Linked DNA regions of Homo sapiens: region 1 is linked to region 2. The links come from fine-mapping of genetic effects on gene expression. A gene starts in region 2. The other region holds a variant in brackets. All regions are shown on one strand. Distances are between the middles of the regions. Region 1 has its middle 7.4 kb from the start of ZNF283. Region 2 holds the start of ZNF155 (zinc finger protein 155).

Region 1 (4,395 bases), 160 kb after region 2:
TGTAATTACAAAGTAAAAAGAAAAACGTTTTAAAAAAAACTTATGTTGGGATTTTAAATTGATCCAACTGATTTCACTTTTTCTGATGCCACAATCAATTTCTTATTGTTTTACTTTTAATCACTCAAGTAATTCCATGTTCTAATGCTTTTCGGACCAGATCGGGAGCATTCAGAGTGGTATAGCTGTAGAGATGTTCTAATGCTTTTCAGTGAGGAGATAAAACAGAAATGAGGGAGGTCTATTAAGCTAAAGTAGTTCAGTATTTCAAGAAAGAGTACGTCGCTGAGATAGTAGAAGGCAGCCAAAAATCTTTCAAAATAAGTAATAAAAATATTTATTTGGATTTAGCAACATTCAGTTAATTGTTGCAGTTTTTAAATATTCAAATAACTGATGATAAATAATGTCAGAAATGAAAGTGTCCCCCTACTCATTCCCTATCTACAGAAATGACCAAAGTTAATATTTTCAGGTATTCTTCCAGATTTTTCTGTACACTGAATGTATGTATAAAGACACAGCTATTTTATACAGAAATGGGATCATGCTATCCATATAATTCTGCCATTTGCCCTTTCCACTTCAACACATTCTTCTACTTCATTTCATGTCAGTTATAGATTTAATTCATTCCTTTTAACGTTGAATTATTACCTAACCCAGCACTGTTCAATGTAGCTTTCTGTGATGTTAGAAATGTTTATATCCCTCTTGTCCAATACAGTAGCCACTAGCTGTCTTGGCTAATGAGCCTTTGAAACATGGCTAGTGTAAGAAACTGAATTTCGAATTTTATTTAATTTTAATAGATTTAATTTTAAATAGCCACAAATAGCTATCATATTGGCTAGCACAGACTAACAGTGTCTCAAAAAACGAACATTGAGGTTCTTCAGTATTACAATGTGAATTCTTCAGTATTACAAACACGGCTTTGGTAAGCATTACTGTACCCACATCTTTGTCTTTCATGCCAGCATTTTTGTAGGCTAGATTCTTGTATGTAAAAATGCTGGTTGCTTAGGGGTTTGCTTTCACACTTCGTGAATGCTACTACACAAAACTGTAAAAGAGCTGTAGTCATTTCCACCCACTACGTGTGAAAGCTCTCATTTCCCCACATTCTCAACAATATTGTGTACCATCTACATTTTTAGTTTTTGAAATTTGATAACTGAAAACGAAGTATGCCATCTGTTTCCGTTATCAGTTTATTGCTCTCACCTCCGCACGCACTCTTCAATATACGCTCCCTGCTAAAGGGATTCCCCCGAAGGGTTCCTGCGCCTACGCACTCGGAGCACAGGTTACAACTTCCAGAAACCCTTGGGACGCGCCGTCCCAAACTTGGGTTTCTGGCGTCTCCTGCGTTTCCGGCCCGGGACTACAATTCCCACAGGTCACTGGGCCGAATGAGCGTGCGCTCCTGATCCGCTTTGCGCATCCCAGTGATTCTTGGGTTCCGCGTGTAGTTTCGGAAGGAGACATCGAAGCAGGGCGAGGCGCAGAGGGCGTTGCGGACTCATGCCCCAGTCGGCAGTGCGGGTAAGGGTGGGAGAAGCAATGAGGCGAATGCGAGCAGCCGAAGAAGGCGACAGTGTGGCTGGGTATGAAGACTTGAGGGAGGGGGTGGGGCAAAACGAGGTCAGGCGTCTCCCTGGCCGCGTGTGATGGACCGTCCGTGGTGGTGACAGACATGGTGTAGGGGGTGTGTGCAATATTATGTGCGTGATAGAGCCAAGGATGTGCCCTACCGTGCGAATGGTGACGTTGCGTCTGTATGAGAGTGCACGTGCCACGGCTGGGATGTCTTGTGACACAGGGAATGGGGTGTGTGTGCATCTGTGCACATGAAATGGCCAGGGTATGTCTTCGTGACTGCATGTGTGCTCATGACACAGCAGGTGTGTTTCTCTTTGTATGACAGACTGTGTGTATGTGTCAAAAAGAAGAAAGTGCTTGGTGTATGACAGGACTGGAATGAATCTGTGACTGTGACACAAGTGTGTGGGTTTGTGTGTAGAGTGACAGCTGGAGTGTGCCCTAGACAATCGAGCTTTCCTACAGGAATGGTGAAGTCTTTTCCTTCTCTAGCTACACAGTATTGTCCAATAATTGAAGTTTTTAGGACCCAGAAGTTGCTAATTTGGGCCTTCTGAACTGGAATTGGGTCAGGAACTGGATCAGTGGGCACCAACTCTCTAGCTTCCCAAGGCCATCAGTCTCCCATAGTGGTTCCCTCACATACATAACAGAAAGTAACATTGAGGAAATGAGCTACACTTTCCGCTAGCTGGAGAAACAAGTTCTTTTGTCCTTTTTGGAAGCTCTGGTGTTGGCAGATTCGGCTCATCATAAAAAGTTTGAAACACTGGTTTGGGAGAGTGCCTGTGTACCTCCCCTCAAACTAAAAAGGCAACTTGGGGGTTTAGCCCTGACCCATCGATCTCCAGGGTTACACGTTCTCCTTTTTTCCAACGGGGGTCTAGGGGATTAGTGGGTCATGAGTTAGAGGCCTGTGAAAATTGTGCCTATTGACCATGTGTTATTTAAGCTACTTAGAAAAAGGACAGAAAAGACCCGGTTCACCTTCAGAAAAAGGAAGCCAATCCCTCCTGTGCTACCGGTCACTG[T/C]AACCCGCTAGAACTAATAATCACTAATCTCCTAGACCCCTCGGGAGGCTGAGGCAGGAGACTCGCTTGAACCCTGGGGGTGGAGATTGCAGTGAGCTGAGATCATGCCACTACGCTCCAACCTGGGCAACAAGAGCAAACTCCATCTCAAAAAAAAAAAAAAAAAAAGAAGAAGAAGAAGAAGGGAAAAATGAAAAGAATGAAGGCTATGTCCAACTTGAAGTTAGAACACAGAATAATAGAATAAATACAAAGAAAGTTGGTTGAGGTCAACAATAAGCACAAGTTAAAGAAATAGAAAACACTGATGCAATAGAGGCTAAATGCCAACAACTGCTTATTTGAAGTGATCCATTTCTGAGATAATTAAAAAATAGATTATTTCAAAAGATGAATAAAAAAGAGAACAGGCACAAATAATATTAAGAAAGAAAAAGACTACACAAGAATAGAAAATATTTTTTGAATTAGAATAAATTTGAAAACAGATGAAATGGTCAATTTCCTAGAAAGCTATAACTTAAAGAATTGACAAGAAGAGACAGAAACTTTTAATAATAGACAATTAGTCATTAATGATACAGCATCAGTAGTTTAGAATTTAAACTCTAATCATCACCAGGCTCAGATAATTGCATGCAAGAGTTGAATTAAGAAAGAGTTCAGACACATCTTATGTGTCACTTCAGATCCTCTCAGCCTCACCTGTGCCTGGGGCCTCTGGAAACTTGTTTCTCTTGATTCACTGCTGCAGCAACATCCCTGCATGAACTCAGAACAACTCTACATGGGCACAAGCAGCAACGAAACCTGACCTCATGCCTGCAATGGGCACTACTTGTCTCAAGCCCCAGGGCTTTCCTGTTGATGCTGATGCATGAGACGTTACAGAACCCATTGAACTATTCACACGCGACCTGGAAGTACAGCGGAGTTAATAGTCTCTGGGACAAACATTTCATGAACCAGTGGATGAATTCACCTCCCTTCTTCTCCTCAGCTAGGTGGTCTTAAAACACAAAATTAAACAATCAATTACACTTGATAGCAAGCAGTGGCCAGCTCAGTAAGACCTTCATACAAGTGTTGTCTCCTTCCCTACCACACTATACTTTTCCCTCTCTCCTGCTTCCCTGGAACTGTACCGGCTGATAAAATAATAGCACAGAAACTTCTTCTCAGGGTCCTCCCTGTAGGCAATGTAAGCTAAGAGGAGTGTTTCCAGGAGAGACCCTCAAGATCCTTGTGATAGGATTTCAAGCTTGTTACTTATCCATGTTTGGCCCAAGTCTGATCTCACAGTGAGTTCAGTAAGTCCATGAACTCACCCTATGGTTGTTTTCCTCTATCCTTTAACATATATTTGGGATAGATATGCTCATCTTCTGGTAGAACTCATTATAGTGGCTTCCTAACTTGTGAACTAAGAGTACTTATGGGCTGGGCGCAGTAGTTCATGCCTGTAATCCCAGCACTTTGGGAGGCCAAGGCGGGTGGATCATGTGGTCAGGAAATAGAGACCATCCTGGCCAAAAAGGTGAAACCTCATCTCTACTAAAATAAAAAAATTACTTGCGTGTGGTGGTGCACACCTGTAATCCCAGCTACTTGGGAGGCTGAGGCAGGGGAATAGCTTGAACCTGGGAGGCAGAGATTGCAGTGAGCTGAGATGGCGCCACTGCACTCCAGCCTGGTGACAGAGTGAGACTCCATCTCAAAAAAAAAAAAAATAAATAAAGTCCTTATGGTATAAAGAGCC
Region 2 (4,395 bases):
ACATCTTGGATTCATGGGTAATTTAAAACATGTTTTCTCCTCCTATTAATCTAATTTTAAAATGCTCCACAATGATATGGTTCCACAATACAAAATCCTTATAAAAAGTGAAACAGGATGTTGACAAATTTTTAAAAGACTCCTACAGAAGTCCAAGTCTATGAGCCTTGCTCTCAAGGTCCCTTCAATCAAGTCCTAACTCTCTTTCCCCACCTGATTCCAGCTAGTTCCTCTACCTCAATGAAAATGTATCCAAGGGATGATCAACTCAGGCTCTGACCCAAACTGCCTAGGTTCCAGCTCCAGCTGTACCTCATTCTACTGGGAACTAAGCACCAGGTGTCTCACTCCCATATTTAAAATGGAAAAGAGCGACCGGGCGCGGTGGCTCACGCCTGTAATCCCAGCATTTTCGGAGGCCAAGGCGGTCGGATCACGAGGTCAGGAGTTTCAGACCAGCCTGACCAAAACGGTGAAACCCCATCTTTACTAAAAATACAAAAATTAGCTGGGCGTGGTGGTGCGCACCTGTAATCCCAGCTACTTAGGAGGCTGAAGCAGGAGAATCGCCTGAACCTGGGAGGCGGCCTATTGCACTGAGCCCAGATCGCGCCACTGCACTCTAGCCTGGGCGACAGAGCGAGACTCCGTCTCAGGAAAAAAAAAAAAAAAAAAAAAAGAAAAAGAGCAATACCTTTCCACAGAGCCATGGTGTGGCGTAAATGTATTTATTTCCATAAAGCCCTTAGAATTAAGTTACCAATTAAGGTTTAATTATTATCAACACCCATGCCCAAGGACACATCCTATACACTCTTGGTTGAGGTGAACATCTCTGTAAAAGAAAAAACCGGCCCGGCGCGGTGGCTCACACCTGTAATTCCAGCACTTTGGGAGGCCGAGGCAGGCGGATCACTTAGGACCACAGGTTCGAGACCAGCCTGGCCAACATGGTGAAACCCCGTCTCTACTAAAAATACAAAAATTAGCCGGGCATGGTGACGCATGCCTGTAATCCCAGCTACTCCGGAGCTGAGGACAGAGAATCGCTTGAACCCAGGAGGCGGAGGTTGCAGTGAGCCAAGATCGCGCCACTGCTGCACTCCAGCCTGGGAGACAGAGCAAACCTCATTCTCAAATAATAACAATAATAAAAACAGACTAACAAAATAAATAACTTTTTTTTAAAAAGAGAAAAGCCAAAGACCACTCGTGTAGACAGCTTTGTCCTCAGTAGCCAAGTCCCTCCCTGCAGCTCTTTTAGAAAAGTCAGGCTGGGGAAGGAGAAAGCTGTCAAACACTCTGCGTCGCCGTCCCGGATACAAGTTAAATGCTCCTCTCCCTTCGTGAAACGTGGATGCAACCCACGCCTTCCTAAAAAGAGGTCAGAGGCGTCCGGGATCATCCAGAGCCCTGCCGGGCTCCAAGAGAAGGGCCGGAGCAGCTGGAGCTCTGACCCCACCCGGGCACCTGACCACTTCGCGGGAAATTAACAGGACACCAAGTGACAGGAGCTGTTAAGTCTTTGTTTTATACCACAACTTTCAACTCCTAAAACAATTCTATCAGGATGGTCCTGAAATCCTCATTTAAAAAACGGCAATGGGAGGTACAGGGAGATTAAGTAACACCCCACGTTATATCGCGAGAAAGAGGTCGCACACTTAAGAGTGGAGGGAGGCGGACTGAACGAGGTCAAACACCTGGAAAACCCTCTAAACAGGCACACAAGACTAGACAGAGTTCTTCCCCGCCCCCCCCGAACCCCCGACGACTCCTCCGGTGGACCTGAGTACAGCCCCCAACGCCAGAAGGCTCCATCGACGGCAACGAAACTTCCCTCCCACCCCTCGCATCTCCAAACCTCAGGTCTTCTCCAGGGCTTCTTACCCCCTTAGTTGACCCCCCAGGTCGTTAGGCGCCCCTAATAACTGGTTCACTTTCGCAAAGACCCGCAAGACACATACTTGGCTCAAACCACCTTGTTAAGTAGCAGTGTCCTGCTCGGAGACCGGAAGTGTCGATGATGCCACAGGCGTCTGGACTACACTTCCCAGAATCCCCCGAATCCGCCTGCCTGAGCCAAAGTTCCCACGACTCCACAGAGCAAATGGACTCCACTTCCCAGAATTCACAGGTCCTCCTGCCTGGGCCAAAATTCCCACGCCTCCCAAGCTACTCGCGAAACGCCTGCGGGAGCCAAATTTCCTGCGCATCGACCGGGCAATTAGACTCCCGCAGGCGTTTCGCTGGTATCTTGGGAAATGGAGTCCATTTGCTCTGTGGAGGCGTGAGAATTTTGGCTCAGGCAGGTGGACCTGTGAATTCTGGCCTATCAACCTATATTTTTATTTTAAAAAAATGGAGTCTCATGTTCTATATCAATTTTTCTAAACTAAAAAAGAATACTTTTCATGGTTTTCTTTAGATAAAGTGACTGTGCCAACCACAGTATGAGGAACACTTCTCTGAAAATTGAGTGACTGCTATTTCTAAACCAGTTACAGCTGTATCCTTGCTCTGTTCTGCCCTCCCAAGAGATAAAAATTTATTGACACGCTCAATCGTAGTAGGCAGGAAACTGTGCCTAATATATTAGGGTATATCTGGCATCAAAGGCCCTTTCTGTCCCCCAGGTCCTTGCACTCTGGGCCTGTGATGGGAGGAGAAGCTGCCATAATCTGTGAAATGCCTTTGGGGTCATTCTTCCATTGTCTTGGACAATAGGTCCTGGCTTCAGTTGACATGGCCAATCCATACTAAATTCATGAATTAGTTAGTTGCTTAACCATACCCTTGTATTCTTCAGGTTTCCTGTTTTTTTTTTTTTCCAAAGTAGATAGGCTGTAAACTTTTAAAAATTTTAGTTCTGTTTCCCTTTTAATTAATAATTATTTCAGTCATTCCTCACTTCGTGCCTTTCACTACGGGTAGTCAAGATGATTCAAGCAACTTCAACACTTTGATTAGAAATTAATTCAGATAAACAATTATATCATTCACAAATTCTACCTTCCATAAAACACTAGCACCTGAATATAATTCAGCCAAATTCTTTGTCCCTTTATAACAAGAAGCTCTCTTCTCTTCCAATAACATGTTCAACATTTCTGACTGAGGTCTTCAGAATGGCCTTTACTGTCCATATTTCTACCAACATTCTGATCATGACTACCTAGGTATGCTCTAACAAGATTGATGTTTTCTCTACAGTTCTTATTCTCTATTTCTGAGCGCTAACCAGAATTGTCCTTATCAGTCCATTCATGGCAATGTAGGCTTTTCCTAGCATACATGTAAAAACTCTTCTAGACTCTATCCATTACATAGTTCCAAAGACTGCTACATTTTTAGGTATTTGTTGCAGCAGCAAGCCCACCTCTCAGTACCAATATTTTTTAGTCACAAAATATCATAGCCTGCCTGGCTTTTATTTTATTTTATTTTATTTTATTTTATTTTATTTTATTTTATTTTATTTTATTTTTGAGACGGAGTCTTGCTCTGTCGCCCAGGCTAGAGTGCAGTGGCGCGATCTCGGCTCACTGCAAGCTCTGCCTCCCAGGTTCATGCCATTCTTCTGTCTCAGCCTCCCGAGTAGCTGGGACTACAGGTGCTCGCCACCATGCCCGGCTAATTTTTTTGTATTTTTGGTAGAGAAGAGGTTTCACCGTGTTAGCCAGGATGGTCTCGATCTGACCTTGTGATCCGCCCACCTCGGCCTCCCAAAGTGCTGGGATTACAGGCGTGAGCGACCACGCCCGGCCGGCTTTTAAGCAACAGAAATCTATTCTTCACAGATCTGGAAACTGGGATCCAAGATCAAAGCACTGGCAGATTTTGTGTCAGGTAGTTGGCCACTTTCTTGTTCATAGTTAGCACCATATTGCTGTGTCTTCATTTGGTTGAAGTGACAAACAAGCTCCTTCTGGCATTTTTTATAAGGGTATTCATCCCGTGACCTAATCACCCTCCAAAGGCCCCACCTCCTATTACCATCACATTGAGGGTAAAAATTACAATATATGGATTTTGGTGGGCCACAAACATTAAGACCATTGCATACGCATCATGCAGTGTCAGAGTTACTAATTCATATCATTGTAAAAAACAATGCAAAAGTAGAGTTCAACATTTTTTATAGTTCTTTTTGTCTTTAGACTGAGGATATATAGTCAAACACTGTACTGTTTAATAAGTTGCTTAAATTACTTCTTGCTGTCACCTTTAGACTGTTTATGTTATTGATTTGAAATACATTTAGGTTAATTTGTTATTCTATGATTTTCACTTTCCTAGTTTATCTACAAAGAAATCTCATTCTTGATTTTATATTATTGGGTATGTCAGTCATCAACATGTTCCCATGAGTCAATGCTCTACCACATATTATTC

The links. PIP is the estimated chance that this variant, and not a neighbour inherited with it, causes the effect.
Region 1: its variant is the best candidate, but not a certain one, in a credible set for the expression of ZNF155 in whole blood (INTERVAL, PIP 0.66).

Annotation. Positions count from the first base shown.
Region 1 is chr19:43,817,693-43,822,087 of GRCh38, reverse strand. It overlaps a transcript of LYPD5 not described here. Among named protein-coding and RNA genes, the nearest start is that of ZNF283, 7.4 kb to the left of the region's middle. The variant T/C (reference allele first, on the strand shown) is at 2,637.
Region 2 is chr19:43,981,818-43,986,212 of GRCh38, reverse strand. It overlaps ZNF155 (zinc finger protein 155), which reads right to left and starts at 2,025. Exons shown (of 5, transcript NM_198089.3): 1 at 1,968-2,025. RefSeq lists a silencer at 2,129-2,328.